Homo sapiens: one gene and its partners. The protein of the gene in region 1 interacts with the protein of each later gene in a biochemical or structural test. Each region holds a gene or a part of one and is shown in the gene's direction. Other genes may lie near its edges.

What was found.
Region 2: the proteins of RPS6KA1 (region 1) and MAST1 interact in a test that uses a peptide from one of them, tested with the Homo sapiens proteins (2 studies listed by BioGRID and IntAct, with this or other methods).
Region 3: the proteins of RPS6KA1 (region 1) and HTRA1 interact in a test that uses a peptide from one of them, tested with the Homo sapiens proteins (2 studies listed by BioGRID and IntAct, with this or other methods).
Region 4: the proteins of RPS6KA1 (region 1) and PDZRN3 interact in a test that uses a peptide from one of them, tested with the Homo sapiens proteins (2 studies listed by BioGRID and IntAct, with this or other methods).

The regions. Positions count from the first base shown.
Region 1 is NC_000001.11:26,535,641-26,540,625, forward strand, and holds part of RPS6KA1 (ribosomal protein S6 kinase alpha-1), read left to right. Parts: intron 1-1,284; coding exon 1,285-1,329; intron 1,330-4,985. UniProt on the Homo sapiens protein: Serine/threonine-protein kinase that acts downstream of ERK (MAPK1/ERK2 and MAPK3/ERK1) signaling and mediates mitogenic and stress-induced activation of the transcription factors CREB1, ETV1/ER81 and NR4A1/NUR77, regulates translation through RPS6 and EIF4B phosphorylation, and mediates cellular proliferation, survival, and differentiation by modulating mTOR signaling and repressing pro-apoptotic function of BAD and DAPK1.
Region 2 is NC_000019.10:12,851,518-12,855,558, forward strand, and holds part of MAST1 (microtubule-associated serine/threonine-protein kinase 1), read left to right. Parts: intron 1-416; coding exon 417-518; intron 519-597; coding exon 598-730; intron 731-742; exon of another isoform or gene 743-810; coding exon 811-878; intron 879-4,041. UniProt on the Homo sapiens protein: Microtubule-associated protein essential for correct brain development. Appears to link the dystrophin/utrophin network with microtubule filaments via the syntrophins. Phosphorylation of DMD or UTRN may modulate their affinities for associated proteins.
Region 3 is NC_000010.11:122,459,608-122,464,396, forward strand, and holds the start of HTRA1 (serine protease HTRA1 precursor), read left to right. Parts: upstream 1-1,945; 5' UTR 1,946-2,045; coding exon 2,046-2,517; intron 2,518-4,789. UniProt on the Homo sapiens protein: Serine protease with a variety of targets, including extracellular matrix proteins such as fibronectin. HTRA1-generated fibronectin fragments further induce synovial cells to up-regulate MMP1 and MMP3 production.
Region 4 is NC_000003.12:73,622,098-73,626,639, reverse strand, and holds the start of PDZRN3 (E3 ubiquitin-protein ligase PDZRN3), read left to right. Parts: upstream 1-1,698; 5' UTR 1,699-1,814; coding exon 1,815-2,537; intron 2,538-2,674; exon of another isoform or gene 2,675-3,072; intron 3,073-4,542. UniProt on the Homo sapiens protein: E3 ubiquitin-protein ligase. Plays an important role in regulating the surface level of MUSK on myotubes. Mediates the ubiquitination of MUSK, promoting its endocytosis and lysosomal degradation. Might contribute to terminal myogenic differentiation.

The DNA.
Region 1 (4,985 bases):
GGAAAAGGCAAGACTGACCAGAGGGGGGCTCTGGGCTCTGGGCTGTTTCTCAGCTGACCTGTTTGGAGCACCTCCTGGATTTGGGACCAGATTTTGAATCCCCACTCACCAGTTGTGTGACCATAGGCATCATCACTAGGTCCCCTCAGAGCCTCAGTTTCCTTCTCTGCCACATGGGGCCAGGGCCTACCTCCCAGGGCTGTCATGAGGATTAAATGGTGCCACAGGGGCCAGGCGCAGTGGCTCACACCTGTAATCCCAGCACTTTGGGAGGCCGAGGCGGGCGGATCACCTGAGGTCAGGAGTTTGAGACCAGCCTGGCCAACGTGGTGAAACCCCGTGTCTACTAAAAAAAATACAAAAATTAGCCGGGCATGGTGGCGTACGCCTGTAATCCCAGCTACTTGGGAGGCTGAGGCAGGAGAATCGCTTGAACCTGGGAGGCGGAGGTTGCAGTGAGCTGCGATTGCACTACTGCACTCCAGCCTCAGCAACAGAGCAAAACTCTGTCTAAAAAAAAAAAAAAAAAAAAAAAAAGTGGTGCCACAGGTGCGAGGCACTGAGCCCAGTGCCTGCCATGTGGCAGAGGCTTGGAAGAGAGCAGCTGTTAGCCCCAAGCCCTCGTCTCTGCCCTCGTGGGACTCCCCATTTATTAGGAAGGGCAGGCCTGTGTGTAAATAGTCCCTGCAGTGGGACAAGTGCTACAATGAAGGCTGAAGTGGAGGCAGCAGTCATTCTGCCTGGCAAGGTCAGGGGAGGGGTCCCAGAGTGGGGCAGGGCAAGGATAGCCACCATCTCTGGGTTGCATGCTTTCCCAGACTTTGTCTCCTTCCACCCTTGCAGCAACTCTGGGAAGTCAGTGTAACTACCCCACCCCATGTTACAGATGGGGAAACTGAGTCCTCTCACAGTTGACTAGTTTGTACAAGGTTTGTATCTGGTAGAGCTGGAAGCCACACATGACCCTTCCCTTCTCCCTGGGAGGAGGTGACATTTGAACTAAGTCTTCAGAGATGAAGTGTTTGCCAGGCAGACAGCATGAGGGTCAGAATGCTGGTCCCTGGGAATATTCTGCCTGAGTCATGAGGCGCCATTGCCAGAATACTTGGTCCCTGTGCCTACACCATGAAAGTGGAGGTGGAGGGACCCACCCAGGACTCCTGCCCTACCACCATGGCCTCCATGGCTATTGGGAGCACCTAAGGGTGGGGGTGCCCCACAGAGTCTTTCTCCCAAGCGTGTAAGTTCTGACAGTGCTCCCCCAATCTCCTTTCTCTTTTCCAGAATGGACAGACCTCAGGGGAAGAAGCTGGACTTCAGCCGTCCAAGGTGAGGACCATGGCCAGCACCCTGAGCGAGGGGCTGTGGGGGATCCTGTTTGCATGGCTTTGGAGGAGGTTGAGGGCTCCAGCCTCTAGCCCCTTTGCCCAACTCAGCCGTCCTTCTCAGGGCCCACCGAATCCTTGTGGCAACCCTGGGCATAGAAATCACTTGTTCCAACCTTCCTATTTTGTAGGTGAGGCGACTGTGGCCCAGAAAGGGTCAGGAGCAGAATCCAGGTCAGGGCTCTGGTTACCTGTCACCCAGGCCAGGATGCCCCTGCAGTTTATTTACTCATGGAATTTGGGCTGGCTCTAAGGAGTGATGGGAGGGGCTCAGGCCAGCTGTCCTGCTCCTTTTGGTAGAGCTGCGCTTGCCAAGAGCCTGGAAGTGAGCATCTGGGCACGTGAGCTGGAAAGGGGGTGCTGGTGGCCGCTCAAGGCTAACCAGGCCCATTGCCTGGCATGTGGCACTCATGGCATTTCTTAGGGCTTCCACTTCCCAGTGTGAGGGTCATTCCCTCACCCCTGCTATCTCTGCTTCCCCTGGGCCCCTTCCTGTAGCCCCCTAGCCCCTGTTGCTGGTTTTGTGTTTTGCCAGAAGCACCAGGACTAGGTGACAGTGGTGTGACCTTGGGGAGGTTCCTTGTACACTCTGGGCCTTGGCTTTCTCATCTGTATATTGGAAAAGACCACATCCCCTTCACAGGGTGGCTGTGAGGTCACAGGAGATGCTGGCTATGGAGGGTCTTTGGAAGCTGCTTAGGCAGGGACAGAGCATGGTGTTAGAGCAAATCCGGGTTCCAGTCCTGGCTCCATCCCCACCATTTAACCAGAAGCTCTTCTCCCTTCTGAGTCTCAGTTTCCTGAGCTGTAAGTTGGGGAAACAGTGTCTGTCTCACAGGAGCAATGTGAAGGACGATGAGATAGTAACTGCCTGGCACATGGCAGCTTCGGTGCCAGCACCGAAAATGTCCTAGTATATTGCTCAGCTCAGCTTCCTGCCAGTGACCCCACCTTCCAGACCTAGGTTGGCTTGAACACCAGACCTGCCATAAGCTTGACCTTTGAGATGGATGCAGGATTAGTCCTGATGTTTACCTTGACTCAGCTTCCTAAGATGAGGTGACTGAGCTGGGTAGGATAGGGCAGGTGAGGGAAGTATTCTCGCACCACTTCTCTGTGGGTTGCTGTGGCAACCTTGGACCAGCAGAGGCCAGTAAATAGTGTGGACTGGGCCCCTTGGTTTAGCTCAGCCCATGTCTGCAGAATCTCCTCCCACAAAGTAGCTACCTCTTGTTGCCTAGTAACAAAATGAAGAACTGTAGGTTCCCAGTGAAGAAACACGGTGTTCAGATCTCAGGGCTGAGGTTCTGGGGGTTGCAGAGGAGCTTGCAGCATTTAGGGACCTGTGCTGAGTACAGCTTCTCACCTCAAGAACTGGAGGAGCTTACTGGGAGATGGCAGGAGCTTGCCGAGGCAGGTAACCTTTTGCTCCCAAGCCTATGACTCTTGCTCTAGAGCAGAAGATCCTGGGGTAGGAAGAGAGACAGGGCTGGAGATGGATGGGACATGGAGTCTCGAATGCCACTTAAGGAAGAGAAAGAGCTTAACCTATGCCTAGCATCATACCAGGTGCTTTGCATTTAGTTCTAACTACATCCTTGGAGGTAGATTGTTACTGTCCCCATTTTACAGATGAGAAAATTGAGGTTCAACATCACATAGCTGGTGGGCAATGAAGACAAGTCTTGTTTGGCTTCAAGGTCATTCCTCATAGTCCAGAGAACCCTGAGTGCTGAAGAGGAGGAGCACTGGCTTTCTGTGATTCCAAGTGGGACCAGTCCTGGGCACCTGCTCATCCATCTGTTGTCCCAGCCACCAGTGTCCCTAATGCCCACTTCTGGGCTTAATACACCAGGGGGCGCTCAACCTGTGGTCCGGACCTCATCACTTTGTGCAGTGGAATGAGCTGGCAATGGGCCACTTTATCCTAATCAGACATTCGGTGCACCCTGTTGTTCACAGGAGGGCCTAAAATGAAGTCAATATCCCCCACCTTCGAGAAGCTTCCAATCTTTGGGCAGAGGGTAGAGACAGGAAAGCCATGTGGTAGGCGCTATGATGGGGCAAGAGCACAGCTGTGGGCACATAGAACCTCTGCTCTGTGCTAGGCCCATGTTGGGCAGAGACGTATACCACCACCTTCCAGGTGCCCACATTTCTCTCCGTAGCATGACGAGATGAGCACGTCCCCGGGAACCCAGCTGATGGCATCTGAGTTCAGGGCTGAGTGTGGACCAGAGACATGGTCATTGCCGTGCATGGCCGAGGAAGAAGAGTTGGGGTGGGCTCTAGGGCACAGGCCATGTTCCCTGCGGAACTGGCATTTGGCTGGGACTCAAAAGGCAGGATTTGGGCAGCTGGAGAAAGAATTGGGCCTTCCAGGTGGCAAAGAGGCAGGGAAGAGAGTCAGGGATTCTGAGTTCAGAATCCTGCACCTATTTTTTATTTGCCTTGTAACCTTGGGCAAGTCATTTGCCTTGCTGAGGCTCGGGTTCTTTCCTGAAAAATGAAAGGAGAATAAAGCCTATTTCTCAGGGCTACCTGGAAAAGAGAATGTGGTACATATAAATTAAAGTATCTAACAGGGCTTGTGGCACAATGTTGCTGTTTAATGCTTGTTTATTTTATTCATTTCAGGCAGAAAGCGGGATTTGGGATTTGGGATTTGGCTTTTAGCAGCAATAGTGTGGATAGCCATCCAGGGTGAGAACTCTCTGGATCCCCTCAGCACCTAGGTGCACGTGGTACCCTAAGGCACACCGGGGCTCCATTTGCCCTCCCTCCCTTCTGGGAGTGGACTGGGCATCCCAGGCCCCCTCCCCCAGCTATCTCCGGAGCTGGACCCCTTTGAAGCGCCTGCAGGTCTATTTTGAGAGCTGAGCGTCTCCCCTCCCCTCCTCTCTTCCTGTTTATGAAACCCTGATCCCTCCCGGATCCCTCATGCTCCCCTGGCCAGAGCTTAGGCAGGATGTGACTGTGGACTTCAGGGAGCCTTGGGCAGCCTCAGGTGTTGGGAGGAACTTCCCTTGGCCTGGTCAGAGAAGGCCAGCCACCCTCCTAGTACCTGGGGCCCTGTGGCTGGGCTCTGTCCCTTCAGCCTGCCCAGGGGAGACCCCACAGCAGTAAGACTAAGTAAACCTGGGAGAAGTTCTGTTTCCAACATCCCCTTGTCTCTGTGGCCCATTTTGCTTCTAGAAACAATCTGAGAGTGGAGCATATTGTTCTAACCTTCATTTTACAGAGGAGGAAACCGAGGTTCAGACAGGGAAACAGATTTGCCCGGGAGCACCCAGCTAGTGAGTGGCCAGCTCTTCCTGACTTCCCACTCTACCCTCCTGGCCTTAAGCCCCTTGGTCACACAGGTCTTTCTCTACCTGGAGTGTCTTTTTTTCCTCCTTTCTGCCTGGCCAACATTTGTTCATCCTCAGGACCCAGCTGGGCTGCCCCTCTCTGGAAGGTCTTTCTTGACTTCATGCACTGGCAAATAGTCACCACCTCTGGGCACCCACAACACCTTGATTATGGCTGTCTCAGGATAGTTGTGGTTTTTTGGTTTTGTTTTTGTTTTGAGGCAGGGCCTCCCTCTGTTGCCCAGGCTGG
Region 2 (4,041 bases), on another chromosome or scaffold:
GCTGTGTCACCCAGGCTGGAGTGCAGTGGTGTGATCTTGGCTCACTGCAACTTCTGCCTCCCAGGTTCAAGGGATTCTCCTGCTTCAGCCTCCCAAGTAGCTGGGATTACAGGCACCTGCCACCACGCCTGGCTCATTTTGCGTTTTTAGTGGAGATGGGGTTTCACCATGTTGGCCAGGCTGGTTTCAAACTTTTGACCTCAAGTGATCCACCCACCTCAGCCTCCCAAAGTGCTGGGATTACAGGCATGAGCCACCGTGCCCAGCCTCATTATTTTTACTGTGTGGCTTGGGCTTCAGTCTCCTCACCTGTAAGATGGGACAGTAGCAGCAGTATGTACTCTGAGGGGCTGAGAGAGGGGCCGGGCTGAGGCAGAGTGCCTATGAGCCCTGTCCCTCTGTGTCCCCTGCCACAGGCCTATGAACGCTCTGAGAGCTTGGAGGTGGCCTTCGTTACTCAGCTGGTGAAGAAGTTGCTTATTATCATCTCACGCCCTGCGAGGCTGCTGGAGTGCCTGGTGAGGGGGCTGGGCATGGGTAGGGGTGGGTTGGTAGACCCTGGGAGCCTGTGGTGAGCCCACTCCTGCCCTGCCTCAGGAATTCAACCCCGAGGAGTTCTACCACCTGCTGGAGGCGGCCGAAGGACACGCCAAGGAGGGCCACCTTGTGAAGACGGACATCCCCCGCTACATCATCCGCCAGCTGGGCCTCACCCGTGACCCCTTTCCAGGTGCCGGCTGGTGGGCGCAGGGGGACTGGGGGTGAGCAGGCCCAGAACCCAGCTCGTGCTCACTCTCAGTCCCTCCCTAGATGTGGTGCATCTGGAGGAACAGGACAGTGGTGGTTCCAACACCCCTGAGCAAGACGATCTCTCTGAGGTAAGGCTGGGTGGCTAAGCGGTCAGTACCCTGGTTCCTGGGAGGGCAGGGTGGGGCTCATCTCCGGCTTCTTTGCCCTCAGGCTTTGTGGATCTCTTGGTCCTACACTCTGAGCCTCAGTTTTCCCATCCATAAAATGGGATTAATAATAGCTCTTCCAGAGCCTGGCATGCTGGCTCATGCCTGTAATCCCAGCACTTTGGGAGGCCAAGGTGGGCAGATCACCTGAGGTCGGGAGTTCGAGACCAGCCTAACCAACATGGAGAAACCCCGTTTCTACTTAAAAAAAAAAAAAATGCAAAAATTAGCCAAGCCTGGTGGCACATGCCTCTAATCCCAGCTACTTGTGAGGCTGAGGCAGAAGAATCACTTGAATCCAGGAGGCAGAGATTGCTGTGAACTGAGATTACACCACTGCACTCCAGCCTGGGCAACAAGAGCGAAACTGTCTCAAAAAATAAAATAAAATAAAATAAAATAATTGCTCTTCCCCTGTGACCTCTTTGTCATGTTAAAATCCATGAAACATAAAATTTAATTTACTTTTTTAACCATTTTATTTTATTTTTATTTATTTATTTATTTATTTTTTGAGATGGAGTTTTGCTCTTGTTGCCCAGGCTGGAGTGCAATGGCACTATCTCAGCTCACCACAACCTCCATCTCCTGGGTTCAAGCAATTCTCCTGCCTCAGCCTCCCGAGTAGCTGGGATTACAGGCATGTAACACCACACCCGGCTAATTTTGTATTTTTAGTAGAGACTAAAATTTCTCCATGTTGGTCAGGCTGGTTGCAAACTCCCAATCTCAGTTGATCTGCCCATCTCGGCCTCCCAAAGTGCTGGGATTACAGGCATGAGCCACCGCGCCCGGCCTTTTTAACCATTTTAAAATGAACAATTCGGGGCCGGGTGCAGTGGCTTAGGCCTGTAATCCCAGCACTTTGGGAGGCCAAGGCAGGAGGATTGTTTGTGCTAAGGCATTTGAGACCAGCCTGGGCAGCATAAAAAATCAGCTGGGCGTGGTGGTGCACCCCTGTAGTCCCAGCTACTCGGGAGGCTGAGGTGGGAGGATCCTATGAGCCCAGGAAGTCAAGGCTTCAGTAAGCCATGATCACACCACTGCACTCCAGCCTGGGCAACAGGGTGAGACCCTGTCTTGAAAAATGAAATTAAAAATAATAAAGAATAGGCCAGGTGCAATGGCTTATGCATGTAATCCTAGTACTTTGGGAGGCCAAGATGGGTGGATCACTTGAGGTCAGGAATTCGAAACCAGCCTGGCCAACATGGTGAAACCCCATTTCCACTAAAAATACAAAAAAATTAGTTGGGCGTGGTGGCACATGCCTGTAATCCCAGCTACTTGGAAGGCTGAGGCAGGAGAATTGCTTGAACCCGGGAGGTGGAGGTTGGTGTGAGCCAAGATCCCACCACTGCACTCCAGCCTGGGCAACAGAGCGAGACTCTGTCTCAAAATAATAATAATAATAATAATAATAATAATAATAATAATGATTAATAGTAATAAATAAACAATTCTGCAGCATTTAGTAATTCACCATGCTGTACAGCCATTAGATCTATGTAGTTGCAGAACTTTTTTATCACCCCCAAAGGGAAACCTCACACCCATTACACACTCCCTCCTCATTCCTCCCTCCCTGCAGTCCCTGGCAACCACTAATCTATTTTCTCTCTCTGTGGAATTGCTTTTTCTGGATATTTCTTTTTTTTTTTTTTTTTGAGACAGAATTTCACTCTTGTTGCCCAGGCTGGAGTGCAATGGCGTGATCTCGGCTCACTGCAACCTCCGCCTCCCAGGTTCAAGCAATTCTCCTCCCTCAGCCTCCTGAGTAGCTGGGATTATAGGCATGCGCCACCACACCTGGCTAATTTTGTATTTTTAGTAAAGACAGGGTTTCACCATGTTGGTCAGGCTGGTCTCGAACTCCTGACCTCAGGTGATCTGCCTGCCTTGGCCTCCCAAAGTGCTGCGATTACAGGCGTGAGCCACATGCCTGGCCTTTTTCTGGATATTTCCTATAAATGGGATCGTATGCTCTGTGGCCTCTTATGACTGGCTTATTTCACTTAACATAACGTTTCTGAGGTTTATCCATGTTGTAGCTTGTGTCACTGCTTCATTCATTTTTATAGCCGAGTAATATTCCATTGAATGGTAGATGCATTCATCCACTGGTGAACATTGGGTTGTCCATCTTTCATCTGTTGTAAATAGTGCTCTTATGAATGTGGGTGTACAAATATTTGGCTGGACAACTGCTTTGAGTTATTTAGGATATACGTCTAGAGGTGGAATTTCTTGGTCATATGGTAGCTCTATGTTTAACTTATAGAGGAATCCTGCATGGGCTTTCGAGCAAGCTAACTGGCTGTATGTGTTAATGGCAGCTCAGCATGGGGAAAATTGCCAATTCTATTCCCAGGCCAGCCACACTTTGGCAGATGTTCCAGATGTCTAGTGGAGAGTCCTACCCCAATGGCCACACATGTGTTTTCTCTGAACTGCCTAGTATTTTTCAAAAATTTGGGCTGGGCCTGATGGCTCACGGCTGTAATCCCAGCACTTTGAGAGACTGCGGCGGGTGGATCACTTGAGGTCAGGAAGTCGAGACCAGCCTGGCCAACATGGTGAAACCCTGTCTCTACTAAAAAAATACATAAAATTAGCCAGGTGTGGTGGTGCCCACCCGTAATCCCAGCTACTTGGGAGGCTGAGGCAGGAGAACTGCTGGAACCAGGGAGACAAAGATTGCAGTGAGCCGATATCAAACCACTGCACTCCAGCCTGGGTGAGAGAGTGAGACTCCATCTTGAAAAAAATAAAAATAGATAAATAAAAGAAGCAAAATATAAAAATTGAAAGATTTTTGCTTCAAAATCTGGGTTTGGGCCTTCTCTTGAAAAATCAGAAGTTCTAGGGCTGGGTGTAGTGGCTCATGCCTGTAGTCCCAGCACTTTGGGAAGCCAAGGTGGCAGGATTGCTTGAGCCCAGGAGTTTGAAACCAGTCTGGACAACATAGCAAGACCCTGTCTCTACTTAAAAAAAAATAGAAGAAGAAGAAGTTCTAATAATACTGTGGTGGAACCAGCTGAGTGGGGGTGGTCCTGTGATATTGGGTACCTGCCCCTTCGTCATC
Region 3 (4,789 bases), on another chromosome or scaffold:
TGGTGGGGGAGGGGTGGAAAATGGGTGAGAGGGTGGTGGAGACTCAGTGGGATCCCCAGCTACTTAATTCCCCAACAGGGAAAGAGCCTAGAAACTCCCTCCACCTCCCGCAAAGCAGTGGGGAAGTTGCGGCCACACTGTTTTCGGTCCGCTCATTCCCTCTGCAGTCTGGCTGCTCAGGGGGATGGAGGAGGATGGGGCTTGCAGGCAGGCACAGCCGGTTTGGAAGGTGTCCTGGCTCCAGCACTCAACTTGTGGCATGACACTCAGGGGAGTCACCCTTTCTGGCCCTCAGTTTTCTCCTCTGTAAAATAAGGAAATTCGACAAAAATAAGTTATCACCAATTTATTCACCACCACGTGTCCTTTTAATTCCATCTGCCCCAGGACTGCAGTGGGGAGTCTTTCTTTGCCGATGGACTTCGAAAATCATCACCCCCCGCATTTTTTGTGGTTAACCACAGCTAGCCAGGAACTCAGGGCTTCTCATCAGCAGAGGCCTCTGCCTCTCCAGTATCCAGGGCCGAATGGATTTTGGGTCAAGGCCTCCCTCCCGCAGCCAGGAGGCCCTGGCTTTATGGAATATCGCTTGGAGTCCAGGGAGTCAGCATGGGGACCCCGACAGCTTTCCCATGCCCCAGGCTCCTGGGCCTTTCTGGGGGACCCCTCTGGACCTTGGGCATTAACAAGGTTCATATTTGGAAGGTGCTTTGAGGGGGCTTATAGGTATTTGGAGTTTACTTTTTAAACTATTTGTATTGGAAAAATAACGTGTGCACAAGGGAACAACCCAAATACAGAAGAATATTAAAATCCCCAAGCCCCCAGCCCCCTCCCATGCTACTCTATCCCAAAGTCAGCTCTGCCGGCTCACCCAACCCTGGGTGCCTCTGCCCAGGGTGGGGGTGGAGGTTTGAGGGTTCGGGATGAGGGCTGGACGAAGGGCCTCCTCTCAGGTCCTTGGACACGAGCTGTGCCCATCTGCTCAGTGTGGACCCAGGACTACTGCCCACAGGCCTGGTGCTGCCTGGGCACCCAGACCCACCTCCAGGGTCGCCCTCAGCCCTCCTGATGACTCTCGGACTCGCATCTGTCCCAACGGATGCACCAAAGATTCTCCAGTGGGAAATCAAATTTTTGATAACAAGTGTTTTGAAATAATCACGCACTTGGTGAAAAATCAAAAGAGGGGAAAACCCCTTTCCCATCTGAGACCGCTCCACCCTCGCCAGTTACGAGCTGCCGAGCCGCTTCCTAGGCTCTCTGCGAATACGGACACGCATGCCACCCACAACAACTTTTTAAAAGAATCAGACGTGTGAAGGATTCTATTCGAATTACTTCTGCTCTCTGCTTTTATCACTTCACTGTGGGTCTGGGCGCGGGCTTTCTGCCAGCTCCGCGGACGCTGCCTTCGTCCGGCCGCAGAGGCCCCGCGGTCAGGGTCCCGCGTGCGGGGTACCGGGGGCAGAACCAGCGCGTGACCGGGGTCCGCGGTGCCGCAACGCCCCGGGTCTGCGCAGAGGCCCCTGCAGTCCCTGCCCGGCCCAGTCCGAGCTTCCCGGGCGGGCCCCCAGTCCGGCGATTTGCAGGAACTTTCCCCGGCGCTCCCACGCGAAGCCGCCGCAGGGCCCCCTTGCAAAGTTCCATTAGTTTGAAGGACGCGAATCTCAGCGAGAGAACCTGCGGAAAGCGAATATGTGGGGCGCGCAGACGGGGAAACTGAGTCCCGCGAGAGGGCCGGCCTGTGCGCTGCCCCGCCCGCGCCCCGCCAGCACCGCCGTGCCCGGGCGCGCCCGCCCTGCCCCCTCCGCGGGCGGTCCCGGTCCAGCCGCCCGCCCTCCCTCCCGCCATCCGGCCAGCCCCCATCCCGGGCGCCGTGCCCGTCCCCAAGGCGGCTCGTCACCGCTGCGAGGCCAATGGGCTGGGCCGCGCGGCCGCGCGCACTCGCACCCGCTGCCCCCGAGGCCCTCCTGCACTCTCCCCGGCGCCGCTCTCCGGCCCTCGCCCTGTCCGCCGCCACCGCCGCCGCCGCCAGAGTCGCCATGCAGATCCCGCGCGCCGCTCTTCTCCCGCTGCTGCTGCTGCTGCTGGCGGCGCCCGCCTCGGCGCAGCTGTCCCGGGCCGGCCGCTCGGCGCCTTTGGCCGCCGGGTGCCCAGACCGCTGCGAGCCGGCGCGCTGCCCGCCGCAGCCGGAGCACTGCGAGGGCGGCCGGGCCCGGGACGCGTGCGGCTGCTGCGAGGTGTGCGGCGCGCCCGAGGGCGCCGCGTGCGGCCTGCAGGAGGGCCCGTGCGGCGAGGGGCTGCAGTGCGTGGTGCCCTTCGGGGTGCCAGCCTCGGCCACGGTGCGGCGGCGCGCGCAGGCCGGCCTCTGTGTGTGCGCCAGCAGCGAGCCGGTGTGCGGCAGCGACGCCAACACCTACGCCAACCTGTGCCAGCTGCGCGCCGCCAGCCGCCGCTCCGAGAGGCTGCACCGGCCGCCGGTCATCGTCCTGCAGCGCGGAGCCTGCGGCCAAGGTACTCCGCCGCGCTCCTGGGCAGCTCCCCACTCTCTCCATCCCAGCTCGGACCTGCTTCTGCGGGACTGGTGGGCAGGTTGAGGGGCAGCGAAGCGTTGTGGGGTGGCCAGGGCAACTCTCGGGGACAGGCAGGTGGGCCCCGGGGTGGCGGATTTCCGCGGGCTGCCTCGGAACCGAGCTTCGCGCCCAGCCCGGGGCCGGTTCTGCGCCCAGACGATGCCAGTACGCCCGGCCTGCACTCTGGGGCTCGAGACGCCGGGCGACCGGCCATGGAGTGCCCTGAGGGCAACCACACAGCGCGGGGACCCCAGGACAAATAAGAGGAATGGGGGCATAAAGGAAGGAGAGAAGTTCAGGACTGGGAATTGGCGCCTCGCAGAGCGGCTTCAGGACCACAAGAAGTCATTTCGGTTGCTTTTTCTTCTATTTACGTCCTCCGTCCCCTTTAAAATTCACTGCTTTGATCACGGGACCGCTCAGTGAAAACTGTATGTAACTCTTTTGGAAAGGAACAGTGTTTGCCGGCCCGCCCCGGAGTTTCTCCAAAAAGTCTACCCCGAGCAGGGAACGGTTTGGCACCGCTCTCGTTTCGGCGGCGTTGCTGCCTGTCTTGCTTTCCTCGTTTTGAGCCAGCCCTACAAAAATGAAAGTGGCTCCTTTTGAATAAGCTGAATCGGGCTTTGGATCACGAAATCTGCAGAGGCGGAGAAGGGACCGGGTTAGTGATGAGGAAGAAGTCTACCCCTCTGTTCCTACAGCCGCACACAGGACCTGTTCTGGCAGGGGAGACGGTGGTGATGGGGGAAGGAGTGGAATGGAGCAATGTCTAACTCTCTCGCGGGACCTTCCGGAGAGATGCTCCTCATCTTCAGGCAGAGGCCATGTGGAAAAATAATATCGAGTTCAGCAGCGGCCAGCCCCGCGTTGTAGGAACCAGACAGCGGGGCTTGGCAGTGCGCTTGGGCGCAGCCGTGCCGCTGCTGCCGGACCCCAGTGCTGCCTCCTCAACACGGGCAGTGCCAGGAGAGGGGCATAGGGGAGCACAGTGCAGAGGGACTGGTCTAGAGTTTACTTTATAGGAATATGGTTCGGTGTGACCAACTAGGGCTTAGCATAGTTTGGCTTACGTGGACGGGAAGATGCCAGAGCCGAACTGGGTGAAATTCGAGATTGCGTATTTCACCAACACAGGAGCACAGCCCTCGGGAAACTCAGCCTAGTCAGGCAGTAGAGAGTTGTCCCGGAGAGAAGTGATCCTGCAGACTCGAGAAGGGGCATGATGATAGCACACGTCTGTTGAGCACCCAGTCTGTGTGCCGGGTGTGTTACCTCTGTGACCTCATTTGGTCAAACGAGGAGGCAGTTGCTCCTCTCTCTCTCTTTTTTTTTCTTAAGAGACAGGGTCTCCCTCTGTCGCCCATGCTGGAGTGTAGTGGTGTGATCATGGCTCACTGCAGCCTCCGACCCCTGGGCTCAATGATTCTCCTGCTTCAGCCTCCCAAGTGGCTGGGACTACAGGCGGATGCCACCACACCCAGCTTCTCATTCCCGTTTTACAGATAGCGGAGCTAAGGTTGAAAAACTTGCCCAAGGTCATTCAGCTGGAATTTAAACCCAGACAGCCTCATTCAGAGGAGTCAGCCCAGCACTTAACTCCAAGGGTGTGGGAGAGGGGTCAGGTGCTGTAAATTTCCTGGTGGGCTGGACGTGCATCCCCCTCAGAGCTGGGAACAGCATACACAAAGCCTAAGACTTGTTTGGAGGTGAATAGATCAGTGTGGCTGGGGAACGTTTTGGGAGGGCAGCAGGAGTGAGCCAGGCTGGTGGCCCAGAGTCCCAGGGCTGAAGAGGCTGGCTGTGCCCCGTGCCCTGTGCGCAGATGTTCTTGAACTGGAGCAACTCAAAGCCTAGTGTAGTGTAGGGCTGACCTAGCAGTGGAGTGCGGAATGCATCCAGGGTGGAGAGTTTAGACTACTGCAATAATCTGGGTGTGAGGCGACAACATTGAAAAAGCATGTTTTTGTCCAAAACAAGCCAGCTGTTACTGGTCTCGCTGTTTGTGGTCTCATCGCACGGGGTCCTGAGTTGCTGGCACCATGCGAGCCGCCTAATTTATTGCTAGTGAGGCAAGTTGCTTAACAAGTTTTGGAGTTGGCTGAGTCCCTGTGTGGAGGAAAACAGGTCCCCCATTGGCCATCGGGCTCACAGCGGGCCCCCGGTGTACCAGTGAGGGGACAGCCACAGAGGGATAAGCATGGTGGCTTTGAAAG
Region 4 (4,542 bases), on another chromosome or scaffold:
AAAGAACACTGTCCAGTGACCTCAACCATGCACTGAAAAATCTAGTGAGTGACAACTTTTTAAAGGTCAGTGTGAAACAAGTAATCCTTATGAACATCAAGGCAATTCTTTCACTCTGATGAAGCAGTTAAATAGTGAAGGTCATGGGGCTTTAGCAGCCACATAAAAGAAAGAAGGAAAGCAATTAGACAAAATGGATGCTGTAATCCCACTTTCCAGGCCCCAGAGTCTCGCTGAATACAGAGCTCCTGCTTTACTGTTCAGAACTCTCCCGCTTCACTGTTCAGAAACTGGAAGCAGATTCCAAATGAGAATTCCATAGCTTGATTCCACTCTCACCAAAAGCTGACTGCGTGTTTCTTAGGAATGTCTATAGCCTTGGGAGGTAAAAATAAAATAAAATAAAATCAATGGATGATGCTATGAACTTTACACCCAGTTTGGAATTCCAAAAATATTCCTCCATTGCTCAGGACTGTTGCTGAATCCTACCCAGCCAGGTTTGCTGTACTGCAGGGAATGAATGTCCAGATCTATGGATCGCCAGGGTTTTCCAATCAAGTGGGAATCCAAGGACCAGCATGGACTAGCAGCATTGGCATCACTTGGAAGTGCTTTCAGTATGGAGATTCTCAGAACCCGCCCCAGACCCACTGTATCAGAACCGCAACCACATTAAAATGTGAGAAACACTGACCTACAGGACCCTACAGGGCACTTTTGTTTTGTTTTGTTTTCTGTTTTGTTTTTATCCTTCTTCTAGCCTGAGTTTCCTCAATGGAAAGATGACAGAGTGTACACACAAAACAAACCAAAACTGAAGGAGGGCAGTTGTTGACATGATCATGGGGGTGATGAGTCTTCTCCCAGTTCTAACTTCTGCAGTCAGCATCGCTTCTTTTGTAATCACGGGAAAATAATTTTCAAATGGAGCTAACCCTCTCACAACATTGTACTAATGATCTTTAAAGCGACGGATTTAGAAGCGCTCAGCACCACGCTTGCCACACTGCAGGGCAGACACTTCAGAGGTGTTAGGTGAAGTGGATGGAGCCAGCACGCTGGCCTCTCCCACTCCGACAGCTGGCGAGCAGCTCTTGTCCACCAAAACTTCCCCGGGTAGATTCACCCACCGGTCCTGGAAACCTGCTAAATCCTGAAGGTTCACAGAACCTCTGGTCAGAACTGAAGTTGCAGCCGGAGCTTCCCGCAGGCTCTGTAACTTTCCCTGGAATGAAATAAATAAATAAAGACCGTAAGTGCTGAGATAGCGGGCCCCAAGATATTTTTAGTCCTCTGCAATCAGCCACTAGAGGAAGGGGGAGGGAGAAGGGAGTAAAAAAGTTTTGATCCGTTCGGGAAGGGGCTCGAAGAGAACCCTTGGGAGAAAGCAGTAGCCTCAGCTCCAAACTCAGCGAGCTTTTCTCGGCTGGCGTTTTGTCTCCTATAGCGTAGACTGTAAGAGAACAGAAAGGAGTTTCCCGAGAAGATTCAGGCTGGCGTCCTGGGCTGGCCCGTCCCTTCTGGCGAGCCTCAGTGTCCTCCCACGCGCTTCTGCCTTCCAGCCTCCTCCCTTTTTCGGGGGGCTGGCGGGAGGCATCCAAGGCACGATGTATGTGCGCTCGCGCTCGCGCAAATACGGCCGGAGGAGTCCTGTTCCTCGGGCATTTTCCGAGGAAGTCTGGATCAATTAGGCTCAGTCCGGGGAGAGCCAGCGAGCGCGCGGGCGGCGTAGCCGGCCTGTCTGGGCCGCCTCGTGGGGAGGGAGGGGGCGCCCGGCCGCCCGGCGGCGACCCCGGGGCCTGGCCGCCACCATGGGCTTCGAGCTGGACCGCTTCGACGGCGACGTGGACCCGGACCTGAAGTGCGCGCTGTGCCACAAGGTCCTGGAGGACCCGCTGACCACGCCGTGCGGCCACGTCTTCTGCGCCGGCTGCGTGCTGCCCTGGGTGGTGCAGGAGGGCAGCTGCCCGGCGCGCTGCCGCGGTCGCCTGTCGGCCAAAGAGCTCAACCACGTCCTGCCGCTCAAGCGCCTTATCCTCAAGCTGGACATCAAGTGCGCGTACGCGACGCGCGGCTGCGGCCGGGTGGTCAAGCTGCAGCAGCTGCCGGAGCACCTCGAGCGCTGCGACTTCGCGCCCGCGCGCTGTCGCCACGCGGGTTGCGGCCAGGTGCTGCTGCGGCGCGACGTGGAGGCGCACATGCGCGACGCCTGCGACGCGCGGCCAGTGGGCCGCTGCCAGGAGGGCTGCGGGCTACCCTTGACGCACGGCGAGCAGCGCGCGGGCGGCCACTGCTGCGCGCGAGCGCTGCGGGCGCACAACGGCGCGCTCCAGGCCCGCCTGGGCGCGCTGCACAAGGCGCTCAAGAAGGAGGCGCTGCGCGCTGGGAAGCGCGAGAAGTCGCTGGTGGCCCAGCTGGCCGCGGCGCAGCTTGAGCTGCAGATGACCGCGCTGCGCTACCAGAAGAAATTCACCGAATACAGCGCGCGCCTCGACTCGCTCAGCCGCTGCGTGGCCGCGCCGCCCGGCGGCAAGGTAGGCGCCTGCTGCCCGCCCCGACCTCCAGCCAGGATCCCTGGGGACCCAGGGCCCCGCCCCATCCCTTTGGGTACAGGGATGCCCCGAGCTTCCCGGGAACATCCTTGCTTCCTCCCTCTTCTTCCACTGCTTACCAGCTGTATCACTACTTGCAGGTCGCTGAACCTGCCTGAGGTGGAACACTGTGGTCCTTTATAGTCTAGACGTAACCGGTAAAGTATAGCTGTACAGCTTCAGGGATTCTGGAAGGACGAAAAAGAATTCACAAGCAAGTGTAGGATAAGAATGAAGAATGCAGCTCCAGAGTCAAAACTGCGTTCAAAGGCTTTGCTGCTCAGACCAGCTAGGGGATCTCGGGCAAGTTGCTTACCCTCTAGAGGTCAGAAACCTATAGACTGACACTTAGGAGAGGAGAGATGGACACATTGGGTGAATTGTATCCGTGCATCCTCTAGGATTCCAGAAAAAAAAATAAAGGGAACCCACAGCCAGTGTAGATTAAGTTAAGAAGGATATCAGAAGAGAGGCCTCTGGGGTAAAAGCTGGATGCAAGCGTGGGCTTTGCAGCCAACTAGCTGGCTGACCTTGAGCAAGCTGCTTAACCTCTCTAAAGTTGGAAACTATGGTCCCTAGAGACGTGGTATACAGAGTAAAAACACAGCCAGGCACCCCTGAGGTATTCATCCAGGGATTTCAGAAAGAATTAAAGGAGCACTCTGCCCCCAACAAGTATAAAGTAATAATTAAGTGTGAGTCCTCTGGAGTTAAAACTGTTTTCAAATCTGGGCTTTTTGCTGACCAGCTGGGTGAGCTTCTGGCTTAATTCCCAGATCCCTCAGTTTCCCTCAGTGCGAAAGGTTTTTGTCAGGCTTCAGGGAGAGAGTTTAGTAGAAGGGCCTCGTACTGTGCCTGGCAGAGAGTAAATAAATGCTCAACAAGTGTTACCTAGAATTATTTTTAACATCTCCACCTGAGCGGTCCCCTTGAGCGAGGGTTTACTTTGCTCCAGGCTGGGTGCTGCATTCTTCCCAGTCATTTCCTTTTTAATCAAGTGAGGTTGGTGTGACCCTTCCCACTTAGTAGATGAAAAAACTGAGGCTCATTAAGGGGCAGTTTCATGCCTGGGTCACAGCTTTTGGGTGCAAAGCTGCATGTTGAACCTTTGCGTGCCCATCTTTCCAGCCCACGTTCTATAAACTATCATGTTGCTCCTCAGTGCAACCACAAGGACCATTTATTGAGTGTTTATTAAGTGCCACCAACAATAGGAAGTACTTTACATGCATTACCTATGTTGTCCTTTGAGATGAGGGAACAGACTCAGAGAAGTTATATAACTTGTCCAAAATTAAGTAGTGACTCAGGGAGCAGAGCCGGACTCAGATTCTACCTCAGAGTTCTCAGTTTTGGGGCATATTGGCATTTTGGGCCCCATAACTCTTAGTTGGGAGGGGAGGTACTGTGCTGTGCATTGTAGGATGTTTAGCAGCATTCTTGGCCTCCCTCCCAAGTCGTGACAATCCAAATATTGTCAAGTGTCCTCTGGAGGGGCAAAGTCGCCCAGGTTGAGAACCACTGGTTTCCCTGATTGCAGAAGCCACATTTTCAACAGCTGGGTACTTCTGCCTTCCTGGGGAGGGGCCTGGGCCTGCTGCCACCGCTCTGGTTGCCTGCTCCAGATGGTGTGGCAGAAAGGGGAAAATATTTGCCCGAGGCTCCCCCAAGGGCCTGTGTCTGCTTTGCCTCTCTCTGCCCTCTCCCAGCCCCCTTTCCTTACGTGCACACCAGGCCTGCAAGTTTTCCGACCTGGCCCCCCTTCCTGGCCCCTGGCCTGTCTGTCAGCTGCAGTCTCAGCAGCTGGCCAGCTCTGGGCGAAGGGCAAATATTTACAGCTCCACAGCTTGCCCAGGACCTCACAGGCACACAAAAGACTGGTGTGAGCCTTCGAATCACCAAAACAGAGGGCAAAGCTTGGTCTTCAATCAGGCGCCAGATTTAGGGT